2 separate regions of the Homo sapiens genome follow, and region 2 is linked to region 1. Evidence: fine-mapped expression QTL. Tissue or cell type: whole blood. Region 1 holds a variant in brackets; the other region holds the start of a gene. All regions are shown on one strand. Distances are from middle to middle.

What was found. PIP is the estimated chance that this variant, and not a neighbour inherited with it, causes the effect.
Region 2: it holds the start of SLC7A1, and the variant in region 1 is fine-mapped to the expression of SLC7A1 in whole blood (TOPMed, PIP above 0.99).

What each region holds. Positions count from the first base shown.
Region 1 is chr13:29,835,094-29,837,856 of GRCh38, reverse strand. All of the region lies in intron 1 of UBL3 (ubiquitin like 3), which reads left to right. Among named protein-coding and RNA genes, the nearest start is that of UBL3, 14 kb to the left of the region's middle. The variant G/A (reference allele first, on the strand shown) is at 1,338.
Region 2 is chr13:29,594,213-29,596,712 of GRCh38, reverse strand. It overlaps SLC7A1 (solute carrier family 7 member 1), which reads left to right and starts at 1,025. Exons shown (of 13, transcript NM_003045.5): 1 at 1,025-1,297. RefSeq lists silencers at 659-1,898, 2,067-2,361 and an enhancer at 2,009-2,138.

The DNA of each region.
Region 1 (2,763 bases):
CTGGGTTCAAGTGATTCTAGTGCCTCAGCCTCCCTAGTAGCTGGGATTACAGGCGCATATCACCACGCCCGGCTAATTTTTGTATTTTTCATAGAGACGTGGTTTTGCCGTATTGGCCAGGCTGTTCTCAAACTCCTGGCCTCAAGTGATCCGCCTGCCTCAGCCTCCCAAAATGTTGGGATTACAAGCATGATTACAAAGTGTTGGGATTACAGGCATGATTACAGGCATGATTACAAAGTGTTGGGATTATAGGCACCTGGCCCGGGAATTAGCTAATATTCTTTAAGTATTATTTCTATTCAATTGTCTTCTTTCCTTATGGGACTACAATTACGTGTATGTTAGGTCATGTCACTGTTTCCATTCTTTTTTCCCCTTCTCGTAAGCCTAGAGATTTTCTAGCAACCTATCTTCATGTTCACTTGTATTTTCACTGTCCAGTATCCAGTTATTTCTAATTATTGAGTTTTTAATTTTAGTTTTTGTATTTTTTATCCTAAAATTTACATAGATTCAAATTCTTATGTTTTCATCTGTTTTCTTGAGTATATTAACTACTGTTGCAAAATTCCTGTCTGATGACCGTCATACCTAGATTGTCTGTGAGCCTGTTTCTGTTGTTTTGTTTTTGATTATTTGATCCTTTTTCCTTGGGTGCCTGGCAATGTTTTATTAACATTGTGATGAAAAATTATAGAGAATCTGAATTATGGTTATGTTTCTCCGTATAGGATTTAATATCCTCTGGTGAGTAGTTAGAAAAACATTGATTACTTTGATTCGTAAGTGACTGATAAGACATGAGCCTGAATTCAGGGCAGTCAGGAAATTCTGATAGCCTCACTATTGGTGGACTACTGGTGTATAGCCCTTAGCTAAGGTCTCAGTTGAAAGTTTGCCATGTTTACCAAGATACCTCTTCCTTGGCAAGTCCTGAATTTCAGGTATCATGAGGCTGATGAAAGCTATTTTTAAAACCTCTTTTCAACATCTTTTTGTTGGGATTTTCTGAATTTCAGTCCATGCTGTTTACAATTCAGCACATTCCTGGAGAGGAAAAGTTGAACAGAATATTGGGCCCCTTTCTTTGAGGTTCCTTTTTATTTTCCTGAGATCCTCAATTCCTGGCCCTTTGGTGGTACAACATCCACTTTTTGTGTCTTCCCAGCCCAGTGAGATTCATACAAGTTCTGGGATGCTGCTTTCTGCTTGGCCTTTTGCTCTGTACTGGTAATTGGCAAATACCTCAAGGGGGAATTGAAGGGAGATCTTCAAAGTGTTTCCCTTCTCTAAGGGATCTTGGCTCCTCAAGTCCTGACCCTTGGTTGTTCTCC[G/A]GAAACCTTCAAATAGCTGGGGATTTAGGGGCATTTTATATCACTTTTATAGTTGTTTTCCATGGGAAATTTGGTCTGATATTGCTGTTCTCTCATAGGTAGCCTAATTGCCTTTTCTTTTCGTACCCTGGTTTTATTTTATTTATTTATTTATTTATTTGTTTATTTATTTATTTTTGCTGTTTTGTGCTGTAGAATTGGCAGTCCTCTCTCTCTTTTATCCTTCTAGTTGCTAAGAACTGCTAAAACTAATTACTATGTTACTTACCATGGCACCATCAGCCAAGCAGTTGCTTAAGTCAGACGTCTCTTGGAGCCATCCTTGATTCCTCTCTTTTCCTCATTCTTTATATTCAGTCACTTTCAAAGTATATCTAGAATCCATCTACTTCTCTTCATCATGCTACCAACCTAGTTCAAGTACCCTCTCTCTCCTGGACTATTGTATTAATCTTGGAACTAATCCTTCTACTTTGATTCACATTCCCTGTAGTACCTTTTCCAAAAATACCTTGAGTGTTTTCCATTGAAGAATAAATTTCCATAGAATAAAATTACAAATCCTTTCCTTGGGCCTTCAGGGTCCTGCATGATCTAGCTCCTGTCTAACATGACTATGTCATCTCATTTGATTTGCTATGCTTTAATTGTATTGGCTCCCTTTCAGTTCCTCAAACATGCTACAAGCCCTATCCCACAGCAAGGCTGAGTCTTTGCCTTGGATATTCATCAATATACTTTTTTTTTTTTTTTTTTTTTTTTTTTTGAGACAGCGTCTAGCTCTGTTGCCAGGCTGGAGTGCAGTGGCGCGATCTCAACTCACTGCAACCTCCGCCTCCCAGGTTCGAGTGATTCTCCTGCCTCAGCCTCCCGAGTAGATGGGACTACAGGCACGCACCACCGCACCCAGCTAATTATTGTGTTTTTAGTAGAGATGGGGATTCACCATGTTGGCCAGGATGGTCTTGATTTCTTGACCTCATGATCCAGCTGCCTGGGCCTCCCAAAGTGGGAGCCACCCACTGGGAGTTACTAGGATTACAGGCGTGAGCCACTGCACCTGGCCTGGATATTTATCAGCATACTTCTATACCCTCTCTGCATCACAGAGTCTTTGCTTAGGATGCTCATCAGTATACTTCTATACCCTCTCTGCATCTGCATGGGTAGTTTTTCTTTCTTCAGAGAAGCTTTTCCTGACATCTAAAGTTGAGAGCCTTTACTCCCTTGGTTTCTGTTGCAAGACCATATTGATTTCTTCTGGAGCATGTATCACACTTTGTAATTCAGTTATTTGTCCTCCCCAGTAGGCCATAGATTCCAGGAGGGTGGAGATATATATATATATATATATATATATATATATATATATATATATATATATATATATATATTTATATATATATATATATTTATATATATATAT
Region 2 (2,500 bases), 240 kb after region 1:
ACACCGTCCACTGTTTTTCTGTTTTCCTATAAGATAGAAGAAGGATGGCATTATTAATTTATGCCCTGTTTACCTATCCCAAGTCCCAGATCACTGGATCTTTAAAGATTATGATTCTCGCTTGGCTTTTGGTACAAAAGGAGACAAGGAGGGAGCTTAAAAGGTGAGCACGGTGTGATTCAGGACTGAAGCTTCTGCCACTTCCTGGGGGGTAACTGCAAAAGTGAGCCGTTCTGACTAGCCGTTTGTGCATTTGCCACTGCCAAGGGGGCACAGGTAGATTCAAGCTTTGGGGCTCTTCTGACAACTGGCAAGGATAAGGTATTAGCAAGGGCAAAGGAATAGTAATAAAATAATCCAATAACAAAGACATGAAGATTTATAATAATTTTTAGGCCGGTGCAGTGTTTCAGGACTGTAATCCTAGGGCGCTTTGGGAGGCCCAGGCGGGAGGATCGCTTGAGGCCAGGATTTCGAGGTTAAGGTGAACTGCGCTCCAGCCTGGGCAATAGAGTAACACCCTGTCTCTAAAATGAAAAGAAAACAGTTTAAACCTTTTAAGTGCATACCAAATCTTTTATTTTGGAGAAGGAAAACTGGTCTCGAGTTCCGTGTGAGCTCCCTGGGGCCCGCCGGGAGGGGGTTGGCACGGCCGGACCTGCAGCACTAGTTCTGGCCAGGGCGCTGTGGGATCTGCAGGGGACCACAGGATGCTGTGGCGCGGTGCGCTCAGATTGGCGGAGAAACGGCCACACGCCTACGGAGCTACTGAGAAGGCGAGCGGAGGCGCAGCCCGCCCGCCCGCCGCGGGAACCCCAGGTTGGGGCGCTGGGCGCGCGAAGACTCAGCCGCCCCGCCCACCAAGGGCGCGTCGGTCCCCGGCCGCAGCCTCTGGGCTGGCAGCCGCCGCCGCGCCGCGCTCCCATTGGTGCCCGGCGGTGACGCGGCCGAGCGGGCCGGGGCTGCCTGGTCCGGGGGCGGGCGTGGGGCGCGGGGCGCGGAGCGCGAGGGGCGGGGGCCGGGCGCACTGCTGATGAAACCTGGCGCCGGAACCCGCCAGCCCTCGGCGCCCATTCAGTCCGCGCAGGCAGGTGTGAGCAGCGGGTCAACTACCTGGCAGGCGCGCACGCGGCCGCGGGCTCCCGCTAACCGCAGCCTCCACTCCTCTCCCCGCGCGCCGCGCCCCCGCCCCGCCCCGCCCCGCCCGGTCTCGCCGGCCGAGCGTCCGTTGGTCCTTGAGCGCGTCCGACAGTCTGTCTGTTCGCGATCCTGCCGGAGCCCCGCCGCCGCCGGCTTGGTGAGTGCCCGGCCCCGCCAACGCAGGGGGCAGCTCCTTGGGCCCGGGTCATCACGGAGGGGGCCCTGGCGCCGCGTGGGGCCGCGGCAGGGCGGCGCGGGAGTGGCGAGGGCCCCCGCGCCGGGAACGCTGCCATCCTCTGGGAAGGGCCAGGACCAGGGCCGGGCGGGCCCCGGAGTGGGCGAGCGGGGCTGGTGCCCATGCGACTGTCGCCTCCACGGAGTCCATTTTGGCTCCCTGAAACCGCGGCGTGGTGCATGATGCAACACCGAGTGAGTAAGCGTGGGCGATCTGGCGATGCCCGCTCCGCGCGCCTGTCCGGGGACCCGCGCGCCGCTACGCACGGGGTGGTCGGGGTGCGTAGGCGGGCGGCGGGCACGGGGGCCAGACTGGGAGGCACACGGAGCCCGCCGGCGGCGAGGAGACCTTCCCTTACATGGCGCGGTGCAGAGCACCCCGCCCCGCCACGAGGTCCGGGGATGTGTCATCAGCCGTGGGTGGGGACTCTGCCCGGCCGCCCGGAGGGTGGTCCCGCGGCAGGTGGCCGGCCCAGGGACTCTGCTGCCATCCCCGCCCGGTGGCCGCCCTGACCTAGGGCGCCTGGCTCTCCGCTTGTCCCTAGAACCCGGGACGCGCCGCCTGCACCTCTCGTCTGGGTCCCCAAGATTGCTTTGAGGAAGTCTCCCCTAGGTGGGCTTCCTTGTGACCCAGTGTGGCCTGGAAAGGCCGGGTTCCTCAAGCCCTCCACATGGTTTGGAATGAGAGGAAGTTCTTCCGCCTTTAGCAAGACACCGTATTCTCAGGGTGTTCCTTTCTGCGTAGTAGAAAACTTCCCAGGCATGGGCAGGTCAGAGTCATTCTAAAACCTGCGCGTACACAGAGCGGCAGCTGCACTGTAGTACTACAACAGCCTGCTGGTTCAGCTCCTGACCCTTTCCAGGGGATGGGGGAACCAGACAGCAGTTGTGTTTGACTTGTGTGACTAGGATAGTCAGACATGTGCCTTCAGGAAAAAAATAAATAAATAACCTACATTTCCCAATACTCACGTCATCACCGCCATGCCCTCATGTGTTGGGTTTTAGTCCAGACATAGTTACCAGATGGTTGAGATTTCAATCCCAGGTGTATCTCCCTAAAGAATGTGCCTTTTATCTTACTTACATTCGACTAGTAGAATTGTGTATGTCGGCCTCTGGCCGA